4 separate regions of the Homo sapiens genome follow, and all the other regions are reported to be linked to region 4. Evidence: microRNA targets listed by miRTarBase, many of them from high-throughput screens and not tested one by one. Region 4 holds a microRNA gene; each other region holds the end of a gene's coding sequence.

Evidence for each region. The annotated mature microRNA hsa-miR-7-5p reads UGGAAGACUAGUGAUUUUGUUGUU and lies in region 4 at 1,752-1,775, shown strand. An mRNA with a match to its seed (bases 2 to 7 or 8) in the 3' UTR can be bound and repressed. Matches are read on the target gene's strand: a 7mer-m8 pairs with bases 2 to 8, a 7mer-A1 pairs with bases 2 to 7 and ends in A, and an 8mer does both.
Region 1: miRTarBase lists RNF128 as a target of hsa-miR-7-5p. The part of its 3' UTR that is shown has no 7-base or 8-base seed match.
Region 2: miRTarBase lists GOLPH3L as a target of hsa-miR-7-5p. Seed matches in the 3' UTR shown: 7mer-A1 at 1,751-1,757.
Region 3: the mRNA of KRT80 is a reported target of hsa-miR-7-5p. The part of its 3' UTR that is shown has no 7-base or 8-base seed match.

What each region holds. Positions count from the first base shown.
Region 1 is chrX:106,795,191-106,798,329 of GRCh38, reverse strand. It overlaps RNF128 (ring finger protein 128), which reads right to left. Exons shown (of 7, transcript NM_194463.2): 7 at 1,314-2,750. The coding sequence ends at 2,617. Among named protein-coding and RNA genes, the nearest start is that of TBC1D8B, 5.9 kb to the left of the region's middle.
Region 2 is chr1:150,645,517-150,648,516 of GRCh38, forward strand. GOLPH3L (golgi phosphoprotein 3 like) reads right to left here. Exons shown (of 5, transcript NM_018178.6): 5 at 714-3,000. The coding sequence ends at 2,805. Among named protein-coding and RNA genes, the nearest start is that of ENSA, 17 kb to the left of the region's middle. RefSeq lists an enhancer at 1,349-1,850.
Region 3 is chr12:52,168,866-52,172,033 of GRCh38, forward strand. KRT80 (keratin 80) reads right to left here. Exons shown (of 9, transcript NM_182507.3): 8 at 2,793-2,848; 9 at 131-2,657. The coding sequence ends at 2,533. Among named protein-coding and RNA genes, the nearest start is that of KRT80, 22 kb to the right of the region's middle.
Region 4 is chr19:4,768,949-4,772,116 of GRCh38, forward strand. It overlaps MIR7-3 (microRNA 7-3), which reads left to right and starts at 1,722; the gene lies at 1,722-1,831. MIR7-3HG (MIR7-3 host gene) reads left to right here and starts at 157. Exons shown (of 3, transcript NR_027148.1): 1 at 157-403; 2 at 682-809. RefSeq lists a silencer at 589-883.

The DNA of each region.
Region 1 (3,139 bases), not on the chromosome of region 4:
TTATATGCTACAACATGGAGGAACCTTGAAAACATTATGCTAAGGGGAAGAAGCCAGTCACAAAAGGCCTATAATGTATGATTCCATTTATATGAAATGTCCACAATAGACAAATCTATAGAAACAGCAGATTGGTGGTGATGTGGGGCTGGAAATGGGAGGGGGAACTAACTGTAAATGGGCATGAGGGAATGTTTTGGGGTGATGGAGTGTTTTAAAACTGGATTGTGGTAATAGTTGTACATATCTACACATTTGCTAAACACATTCCAATGATATATTTACAATGGGTAAATTATACTTCAGTACAGCCGTTAAAAAACACTTAAAAATGCCCCCAAAGAAGTCCCACAAAACTTGAAAAGAGGTTAACTATCTAAGAATATAGGGCAAGAATACAGGCATCACACATCCACCCTCGTCCCCGGCATATCGTCACATAAGACACATGTACCTGGTTTGATAATCATAGTGCTGAGGCGTTCCAAGCATCTGTGTATTCTTAACATGCTTGACAAAAGAAAGATGCACTTAACTTATTAACAGCATCCTGACAATCACACTGACAAAGAGAAGTCTGAAGAAAAACTTTAAAGTAATAAAAGTTCCTCTGTCATGTATAGCATGAAGATGGACTGGCATCAAGGTCTATTTTAATGTTATATTATTACTGGTCAAACCCTTTTTACCTGGCTGACATTTAACAATAATTCATGGTAAGTTGAATGATACTACAATGGCATCCATTCCTCTCTATGTAATATGTAAATATATCATACTAATGTTTCAGTGTTTATTGATCAAATATATAAATGACCATTTATATCCAACCATTTTCTTATCTCCCAAATCCAGACATATTATATGAGAAAAATTAGTGTATGGACAGTGATAAGGTTTGGATATTTGTCCCTTCCAAATCTCATGTTGAAATGTGATTCTCAATGTCGGGGGTGAGGCCTGGTGGGGGTGATTGGATCATGAAGGTGGATCCCTCATGAATGATTTAGCATCATCCCCTTGGTGATAAGTGAGTTCTCACTCAGTTCATGCAAGATCTGCTTATTTAAGAGTCTGGGACCTCTTGCTTCTCTCTCTCTTCCTCCTGCTCTTGTCATGTGATGTGTTTCCACTTAGCCTTCCATCATGACTGTAAACTTCCTGAGGCCCTTACCAGAAGTGAAGCAGATGTTGGCCCCATGCTTACTATACAGCTTATAAAACCATGAGCCAATTAATCCTGTTTTCCTTATATATTACCCAGTCTCAGGTATTCCTTTATAGTGACACAAGAAACATCCTAATACAGATAGTTAAACTAACACCAGACACAAACTTTTATTGGAATATTTTATTTACATTTTATATTTAAAGAGAATCAATACAAATTGGGACATATTTACAGCATTTCAAATCAGTGTACAAGAATGCAATGGTTTCATCCATTCAGCAAACAAAAATACATGTCTGTTTTATTTTTGCCTAAATTCTGCTATAATTTGAACAAAATTCTAAAACAAAAGCCACACAGAGTACAAATAAAGTGCATTTTTAAATAGCTCTATTTAACTTTGGTGGATGAAGCTTCAAACTTTATATTAAGGCACCTGGAATTCTCCCCCCCTTCTTTTTCAAACACCAGGAAAATGCATTCACAAAATTTATAGTTACACGGACAGAATTTTAGTTTATCTAATGTAATTTTAGCCCATTTAGGTCAAACATAAACTCAATTTTCAAAGTAACATTGTTTGGAAAACATTTTCAACAGACTAATTTTACAGAACATTTTTTTTCTGTAGACTAATTCATGAACGAAGATCAATGACCAATATTAGTGTTACTTACTCTGTCATTAGCAATTTCAAACAGTATGATGATTCATATACTGAGCTTTTGAAAAATCCCACAAGTTTGAGAAATAGTTACACAGTATTTTTGTAAGGAATTTTTTGTCTAATCTTGTGTCAAGTTGATGTCACTAATATACCAATCAATTAAGTCCATAATCTCTGATAAACTATGGTTGACAAATCACATGAAGTACATTCAGCCTAATTTTAAAAATAAGAAAAAGTAAAAATGAATATTTTGCTTTAATCTTTTCTATTAACTTAAAGCAGCTTAAATAGACATTTCAAGAAGTACTCGCCTAAGTTTGCATTGCTTTTTACATTACAATTCCAGATCAATATAAGCACCTGGAGAAAAACCCTGACACATGTAGCCCAAGCTAAAGAAGTAGTATTTTTCATTAAGATACTATCATAAAATAAAGTGATTACAGCTACTCCACATTTTAAAAGCAACATGTTTTTATAAGAAAATTGTTATAAATGAAAAACGTGACTTCTTGAAGACAGTTTTGAATGTCTAAAAATGTTGTTATCACTACTGAGAGGAAACTTGCCTATGAAAAATATTATAATGAGTTTGTGGAAAAAAGTTAACAGGTTAAATATTTTAAGCCATTTAACTATAGCATAATATTAGTCATCTGAGCACTTTCAGTATCACTCTTATTTTATTAAATTTATCCAATTTATTAATAGAAACTAGGCCCTGATTGGCAGTTCTGTTATTACTAATGGTTCAAGTTTTCTATTTACACAGATTTTAAGATTTAATTTCTCGAACAGCAGTCTCTTGATTAGGAGTTTCGTCTTCTTCAAAGGTTGGGTTGTCAACATGAGGAATAACATCCACTGCCACAGAATTTGCTTCATGGTTTACCAGCTGTAGACTTTCATCTTTAAAAAGAAATAGCAATTTTAGGATGATTTTGCCCCTCTCCTCTTTTAAGACAAAATTCAACATTTACTTCCAAGAAGTCTTTCTTATTTAATTTCAACATACACTGATTACCATATTCATTCCCTGTACCTCTAATAATTATATGATTTATGCTATATCTTACATAAAGCACATATGGCATTATTATATTGATTTATAATTGCTTTTTTGATTCACGTACATGTGCTTATTTCTACCTAGATTATAGCCTCCTTAAGAGCAAAAATTATGTCTTCTACTTCTTCCTTACCTTAAATATAACAAGCTGTTAAATCTGGCTATACATTTCAATCACCTGGGCACTTAAAAAATTACCAGTGCTTCTTCATTCACATAAATATAGATA
Region 2 (3,000 bases), not on the chromosome of region 4:
GGCATGAGCCATCGCGCCTGGCTGAGAATTTCTTTAAAATGCAGCTTCCTCCTAACTCCAGAGACTGATTTACTAGGATCTGCATTTTAGCAAGCTACCCTCCTATCTCACACACACATTTTGGTGCAATGGTCTTTGCAATATACTTTGAGAAACATTGTATAAAGCATGACTTATGGAAATAGTACTTTGTCTTAAATAAAAATATTAGAAAAGTATAAACAATCCTAATAAACAAATGTATTATTGTCCCTTGTGCTATAGATAAAGAAAGGGAGAACAATAAGCCAATTATAAGCACACTTACATTTTTACATGTTAACTCTGTTATAGTCAGGCATGTCACCTACATTTGGAACTTAAGATTTTCAACTCCTAAATTCAGGTGTCATTTGCAAGTAGATATTAGTAGAACAGATCATATTCATTCTCTTCATGGTAATAATGGTATAATTGGCTAATTTATTTTGATTGAGATGGAGACACTATTTAGGCTTTATAGTATTAGCTGGTGTTCATGTGGTCAGCTTTTGACATGTCCTGCCCCTCAGCCTATGTATGTTACAATTGTTTTTGTATCCCTCATTTTCTACATAGGATAAAACAAGCTGGTATGCTAGTGTAAAGGGGGAGGCATTAATAGCCTTGTGTAGAAAGTCCTTAGTTCCAATTAAAACAATTTAAATTATAAAATTGTGCACAGAGAGACCAGAGAGCTGATAATTGATCTTTATTATACAGAAATGTGAAGGCCATAAGCATTAAATGAGAAGGAGTTTGGCAGTGAACATTATGCAGATTCAAACTGAAGGTATCCTCGTCTTACTGAGATATAAAAATAAACACTAAGAGTTGCAAGAAAGAACTCAATTCAACTTCTATCTCCCAATCAAGCTATAACTTTCCACAGGAAAACCTGGTTTCAATTCATGCCGAATTGTTCAAAGAAAAGAAAAAGCTAAATCAGTTAGAGACAACACATGGACTGGCTTTTGTCCTATTAGAGAGCCAGACTGAAGCTGTATTCAGCCTCACATTTAGAGACTGTTTCCTATTACAATTTATATCTCTATTTGCCTAAGAGATACCTAAAGTGAAAAACAAAAAAATGTTAACTGAGCTGGGGCATTTTTGTGGGGCTAAGTAGATTTGGCAGAGGAGAGAAATGAATAAATAATTCATTTAATTATTTCTAATCAAGAGGATTTAATGTCAGGTCTGGGTCATCTGTATTAACCCTTTGACAGTTTGTTGTTCTATAATGGTCAAGAAGCACTATCCCATTAAAGTATAATAAATGCTGAACATCAGCACAGCTCAGTGCACATCCTCTTTATATCCTCAAATACTGGACTTTATATCAGCATGCTTTCAATACCAAATTAGCCCTTTAAATAGGATCTTTCTTAATAAAGCTTCTCATTGCCCTCACTACTGAAGTAAAAAACGTGTTAGAGATTTGGCCAGAAAGATGGTTTTACTGAAATAAGACTGATGACTAGGAGCACATCTATGGATTAAATATAGACAAAACTACTCCCAGAAACCTTAAATATAGACAGACTTTATTAATTTATGTAGGAAGCCAAAAATAGGAAATAAAAAGATCTGGAGTTCAGATATACTGATATATTCAGCAACTGAAACTTACAATTCCTTCAATTCAGTCAGAGCAGAGACATTTAAAGTAGTCTGGAGGGGTGGGTGCAGTGGCTCAAGCCAGTAATCTCAGCACTTTGGGAGGCTGAGGTGGAAGAATTGCTTGAGCCCAGGAATTCAAGACCAGCCTGGGCAACAAAGCGAGACTCTTGTCTAAAACAAACAAAAAAAAGCTGAGTATGGTGGCACGTGCCTGTAGTCCCACTTAGTTGGGAGACTGAGGCAGGAGGATCCTTGAGCCCTGGAGGTCAAGGCTGCAGTCAGCTGTGATTGCACTACTGTACTCCTGCCTGGGCAAGAGCAAGACCCTGTCTCAAAAGAAAAAAAAAAAAAAAGTGGCCTGGGGGAAACAGGACAGTCATATACCCCAAGAATGGAAATTTTCATGCCACCCCCCTTCCTTCCTTACAAATTCTAATGCTGATTGCATGAACGAGGTGTTGAGAGAGACTTTTCTTCATTTAGACATTTGCCCTAGTGAATGAGGGAGCAAGAGAATGCTAAGAGGGATGAGAGAATATATTTCTGGCTCTAGGACTTTGACATCCAGGTAATTGAATCTGGGACATTCTCATTAGGTTAGAAAAGGAAAGATGAGAAAATCACTAGCAGGATATGCAATTCCAGAGACCATCTGCTCCAAAAATTAGTTTTGTTTCTCATTGCTCCTTATTCAGCGACAGTTATTTCAATAAGCTACATTATTTAGCAGAGTCTGAGAGACAAAGGCTGTGAAAACATGTATTTATGATAGAAAACAAACTCAGAAAAATATAATAGATAGTTCACTTTTTATCTCATTCACATTCTATAGCTGGAGAACTCAAAATCCCATTTAGATATTTCTGCTTATCCAAAAGCACACTGGGTGAAACTAAACCACCAAATGGGAGAAAATGTTCATTGGGTGTGTGTGGCTTCACCCAGTTTATTTACCTATGGAGTGGAAGTGTAGGGAGAAATAAGGTCTGCTTATAATGGTCAAGGTCTATGGAGAAGCCCTGAAGTTGCTCTCCCCAAATCACAAGTCTGATTCAAGAAAAGGAAACAAAAATGATGAAAACATCTCATCACACAAAACTCAGTGATGGGGTCTCTGACAGTCACCAGCCAGCAGGGGAAAAGGAGAAATCCACCTGCCGGCTTTAAGATTTATTGAAGGCTGCCAGCACAGCCCAGATCATTTCTGTGGCACTAGGCTTTGTCCCTTCCACTTCAGGGTCCAGTTCTACTAAGTCCTTGGCTCGATTCATTGCCACATCATACTTGTCATCTGTCAGAGAGGAGAAGACATTCTCTAGCACATCAGAGGAGTGGGCTAGCACCAGGAGTGCTAGTGTT
Region 3 (3,168 bases), not on the chromosome of region 4:
CAGTGAGCCGAGATCCAGCCACTGCACTCCAGCCTGGATGACAGAGCAGGATTCTGTCTCACACATACACACACAGACACACACACACAGACACACACATACACAAAAGAAAGAAATCCCTGAGACTTGGTAATTTATAAAGAAAAGACATTTATTTTGGCTCACAATTCTGCAGGCTGTACTGGCATGGCACCAACATTTGCTCAGCTTCTGGTGAGGGCCTCAGGAAGCTTACAGTAAAGGCGGAAGGTGAAGGGGGAGCAGGCATATCACATGGCGAGAAAGAGGGGAGAGGTCTCAGACTCTTTTAAACAACCATATCTATGTGAATTGAGTGAGAACTCACTCATCACCAAGGAGATGGTGCTGAGCCATTCATGAAGGATCCTCTCTCATGATCCAAATACTTCCCACCAGGCTCCACTTCCAACACTGGGAATTACATTTCAACATGAGATTTGGAGGGGACGAGCATCCAAACCATATCAGATGGTGAGACAGGAGAACTTTGTGTGTACCAGCTGCACTGGTCTGAAGATATAACTAAGTCCCTGGACTTTTTCTCCCTTAATTGGAGAATTCCTAATGTTCCATGATCAGCCTGATTGACCAGTGGCTGACTGGTCCTGAGAGGGGAGATAAAAACAGACACACAGCTTTCTCCATAGACAAATCTCAACACTTTATTCATCCTGTGGCAGCAAGAAGGGGACATGGCCCCAAGATAGCCAATCAGGTGAGGTGGCTGGAGTATGTGTTATCTTTCCAGATAGTACATACAGACTGATCATGCAGAAACAGGAAGGGAAGCAATAAGTTAAAAGCCACATAAGTTATGAAAAAATAATATATACTTTATATGTCTTGTATCCCCACTGAGGATTTGCTCCCTTGGAAACCAATGAAGAGCCTGAGGAAAAGCACCAATCAGCACCCTCTTTTGGGACTTTGGGGATGAGAATCTCTGAGTTCCCATGGCCAGAGAGTCAGTAACCCTCCAGTGCTCCCCACAGGCCTGGAGGGCCTTGAGGCCTGGGATGGGCCCAGACCTCTGGCCAACATGTCCTGGCAAATGAGATGAATGAATCTAATGCAGTCTAGAAGAGGAGGTGAGGCAAGGGGCAGGGAGGGGAGAGGAGAGTGAAGGAGGGAAGGAAGCTGTGCAGTGGGAGGCTGGTGCCGCTGGGATGCCTCTGCAAGCCTCAGCATTGAGAGCCAAGAGGAGGAGATAGGAGTATGCCTGCCAACACCCCTGTCTTCTGGTGGGATGTGGAATTTTCCTCTCTGGTAGAACCCTTGTAAGGCTGTCATTTGGGCCCCACAGCTGGACCTCAAGGGCTTGGAAGCTCCCAGACTTGCCTGGACTGTGCCTTCTTCCTGGCCTGCTGGAGGCAGGGGGAGTGGGCATGGAGGGAGGAAGGGGAAGGAGTGAGAAGAAAGGAGGAGCTCTAACCCCATAGGTGTGGGGGGTTCCTGGGCTCCCCCATGAATGCCAAGGAGGGGAGGGCCAGGCTATTTGGCCCAGTGGAGAGGAGAACAGAGGCCCTGAGAAGTGAGATTCTTGGGAAGTGGGCCTGGGGCTTCACGGCAGGGGTGGGACCAGGGGTCTCCAAGGCCTGGTGCACCAAAGCCCGGTGCTCAGGCTGGGAACAACCCGGCTGGGGGCACAGAGCTCAGATCCAGGCTGGGTAGGACCCCAGCATGGCAGGGAGGTGAAAGGAAGATCGAATGCTCCTGCCCAATCTCAAGCTGCCATCTGGCTTCCACTCCCAGGGAGTTGATTATGGCAAGAGCAGCTTCCGGAGAAGCTGCTGGGAGCTGGCTGGGGGCAGCCCATCCAGTTCTGACTACTGCCTACTGGGAGGGACCCATGGGAGGAGGAAGGGATGCGGGTGTTCGGGCTGATCTCTGGGGCCTAGGCTTAGGTCCCAAATAGCCAGGGCCCCTCCTCCCTTCACTCCCTAATACTGTCAGGTCTCTGGGGAGCCCAAAGAGCACGGGAAAGCCAAGAGGGTCTTCAGCAGCCAGCCTTCCCAGGAATTCCAGATACAGGACAGGGCCCACGCCGTCCTCCTCGGCTCCCGCACATAGGTGGATGAGCCAGTCCCAGTCCCAGTTCCGAGGCAGAGACAAGGCAAGGCTTGAGATAGGAGTCAAGGTCAAGGATTGGGCAAGAGTCAGAGGGGCCTTGGCAGAGCCTGATGCTGGAGGAGGAGCCTCAGAGGAGCGAGGAGGTGGAGACAAAACTGACCCCTAATTCCGACTCACCCATCAGGAAAACCTCTGGCCAGAAGGTTGGAAGGATGGGACTGTGAGATACTGATATGGAGCGGAGTGGCTCTGAGGAGCTGGTGATGCTCCTCTCCCACCCTGGCAGCCCACAAAACACAGTCAGTTTTGAACCCCTCTCTCAGTTCAATATCAGGTTTTGCCTCTCTTCTCAACCTAGAGGCTCCAAGCTGCTTTCTTGAGTCTAGCTTAAGTCCCTCCTGCTGCAGTGGAGTGCCCTGGGGTTCCTGGGGTCCAGCCGCCTTACTCTGAGACCTCCGACTCCTGCGAGAAGTACTTCTCTGACATTTCGGTGATTTTGATCACGGGGCCTTTGCTGCCCTTCTTCTTTCGGGAGGGGGCCTTGGAGAGGCCTGATCTGGAGGCAGCTACAGGGAACATAAGGGGTAGGGGAGGGAAGGGGCTGGAGGTTTGGGAGCCACTTAAAATGATGCCTTTAGGATCATGATCCCCTACACCCTCACCCTCACCCCACCATGGGTTCTCGGGGCAAGAGGACTCACCGGTTTTGCACCTGGACTGCACAGCGCTGACCACAGTGGCTGAGGGCGAGTCCATCCTGGGGGTGGGGGACGGGGGGGTGGGAGAGGGATATGATGGGATGCGAAGAGAGCCTGTGGCTTAAACTCCCCTGGGGGCTGGCAAGTGGAGGGTAGTTCTTGGTGGTCACTCCCAGCCCTGGGGTTGCCCTGTTGTGTGGCCCTGGCTAGCCAGCTTGTCCTTCCTGGGCCTCTGTCCCATCTCCATGGCATAAATGGCTAATAGCATTGAGCACTGAGTTTTGACAGGCATTTGCAGGCATAATCACATGAATCATCCCTGCCACAGGTGAACCATGTTTATGATCAGCCCACTTTCCAGATGGGGAAACAGGATGAA
Region 4 (3,168 bases):
AGCCCAGTTTTTGGGCAGATGCCAGACTTTTATTCTGAAGCGTGGGCCACAACCTATGAGGTAATCTTTGGAGCTTCATTCTGAGGCGGAATCCCATTGGCCAGTTGGGGAAGCCCCTCCCAGGATTCCTGGCGCTCCGCCTTCCCTGAAGCCTATAAAAGCGCAGGTCCCCGCCTCGGCAGCCACGGGACACCTGCATCTGCCAACAAGACTGGAAGCAGGTGAGGCACACAGAGGGGGAGGCCCGCAGCTGCGTGGGAGGAGGGGTGGTCTGAGGGACGTGGGATGCCGGGAATGAGGCTGGTTTGCAGGTTGGCGCATGGACATTTTCCCAGAAAGGGACAGAGACGGCGAAGTTTGACGGTCTGGAAAGCAGAGACCAGCAGGGCTGACTGCTTGGGAGGTAAGTTCTGGGGACATGGTACAGGGTGAGGAGCAGGTATCAGTGCTAGTTGCGACCCCTCTGTGTCTCCCCCCCGCCACCCCATTGCCATTCTGAAGCTCCCCAGGAAGAAGCTAGGAGGGGAAATAAATTGAGTGGGGGTGGGGTTTCCCAAGAATCGGAGGAACCGAGAACGAAGAGGGGTGGGGGAACGGGGAAAGAGAGAGGAAAATCAAGTTTTCTTCAGCACGAGGGACAGCTCTCCACCGACCGAAGGAGGAGAATGCTATTTATTTCAGCACCAAATATCCGGACAGCGCCTCTCGGGAGGTCCGAGAAGAGAACCGCGATCTGTTTCAGCACCGGGGCTCAGGACAGTTCCCAGCGGGCTCCGTTTCGTCTCCAGAACCCTGGACAGCTCCTCCAGGTAACGGGAGAGCCCTTTGACCCTGATTTTGCAGGGGGAGGACGAGAGAGGGTGGTCTGAGGTGCCTGGCATTTCTGGAGACCTGCACCTCATGTAATGGATTTTTAAACAAAGTATTTTCCAGATAAGCACACACAGAAGTCTGCAATTTTCTTTTTTTTTCGAGACGGAGTCTTGCTCTGTCGCCCAGGCTGGAGTGCAGTGGCACGATCTCGGCTCACTGCAACCTCTGCCTCCTGGGTTCAAGGGATTCTCCTGCCTCAGCCTCCCGAGTATCTGGGATTACAGGCACATGCCACCACTCCCGGCTAATTTTTGTATTCTTAGTAGAGACGGGGTTTCACCATGTTGGCCAGGCTGGTCTCAAACTCTTGACCTCTTCATCCGTCCACCTCAGCCTCCCAAAGTGCTAGGATTACAGGCGTGAGTCACTGCGCCTGGCCCAAGTCCGGAATTTTCAACAGGTAAGATACCTCACTGGGGTAACAGCTGCCTGCTAAGATGACATTATGGTGTCTCTTCCAGACTTCGGTGAGAAACCTTGTGCCAAGCATTTTACATACATCATATCATGCCATCTTCAACCCTAGGACATGGGTGTTACTGTGCCCATGTGACATTTGGGGAACCCAAGGCCCTGAGAAAGGCAGAAAAATAACCCACGCAGGGACTCTCAGCCCACAAGTGAAGCTGTAAGTCAACCCCACCAGTCCAACTCCAAATCCCATGTCTCTGACGTGCCTGGGTGGGAGGTGGGCCCTTGGAGATCAGACCCTGCTTCTCTCCAGGAGAACCGGGAATGGAAAACAGGGAGGCAGCACAGAGGCAGGAAACTCAGGTGTCATAGCTTGGCTCAGGTGAGAAGGAGGAGCTGGGCAGGGGTCTCAGACATGGGGCAGAGGGTGGTGAAGAAGATTAGAGTGGCTGTGGTCTAGTGCTGTGTGGAAGACTAGTGATTTTGTTGTTCTGATGTACTACGACAACAAGTCACAGCCGGCCTCATAGCGCAGACTCCCTTCGACCTTCGCCTTCAATGGGCTGGCCAGTGGGGGAGAACCGGGGAGGTCGGGGAAGAATCGCTTCCACTCGGAGTGGGGGGGCTGGCTCACTCCAGGCGATACAGGCACAGGCAAAGGAGGGAAGCAAACAAGGACATACATCCTGTGCTCATACAGCCATGCACCATGTATGGGGTTTGTCACATCACTCGTACGCCCCCACAAGCCTGGAGATAGAACATACCTGACTCTAAACCCAAGACCTCTAACCACCTTATGGCGCTTTCCTGGGAGACCCAATGAGGGAATGACATTTAAAGCCCTCCCTAGACCAGAGTTCTCAGGGTACTTTTCTATTAAAAAAAAAATTATTATTTTTTTGGCCGGGTGGCTCACGCCTGTCATCCCAGCACTTTGGGAGGCCAAGGCAGGTGGACCACTTGAGGCCAGGAGTTCAAGACCAGCCTGGACAACATGGTGAAACTCCATTTCTCCTAAAAATACAAAAATTAGCTGGGCGTTGTGGCACACACCTGTAGTCCCAGCTACTCGGGAGGCTGAGGCATGGGAATCCCTTGAACCCAGGAGGCAGAGGCTGCATGACCCAAGATTGCACCACTGCACTCCAGCCTGGGCAACAGAGAGAGATTCTGTCTCAAAAAACATTTTTTTTTTCTTTTTTGTAAAGACATGGTCTCCTGCCTCAGCCTCTCAAAGTGCCAAGATTACAGGTGTGAGCCACCGAACCCAGCCTAAGGATACTTTTCAATAAAAGTTCCAGAAGTGGGCTGGGTGTGGGAGCTCATACCTGTAATCCTAACATTTTGGGAGGATGAGATGGGAGGATTGCTTGAGTACAGGAGTTTGAGACCAGCCTGGGCAATATAGTGAGACCCCGTGAGTTGACACATGCCTGTAGTCCCAACTACTTAGGAGGTGGGAGGAACACTTGAGCCTGGGAGATCAAGGCTGCAGTGAGCCATGACTGCACCACTGCACTCCAGACTGGGCAACAGAACAACACCCTGTTTCAAAAAAAAAGTTTCAGAAAAGATTCCTTTCCTGTCTGCTACCCATCAGTGTCATGGGCCAATCATAGGACAAGTGTGAACTTGTGCCCAGTGGTGACTTATGACATCATAAAGGCTCACCACCTTTGCCAGACATGGTGGCTCACACTTGTAATCCCAGCACTTTGGGAGGCCAAGGTGGGAGGATAGCTTGAGCTCAGGAGTTCGAGACCAGCCTGGGCAACATAGCAAGACCTCATCTCAGTAAAAAATAATAAATAAATAAATAAATATATAAGACTCACTCCCAATTCTCTGCAACACCCTAATCAAGTGAAAAACTGCACATGG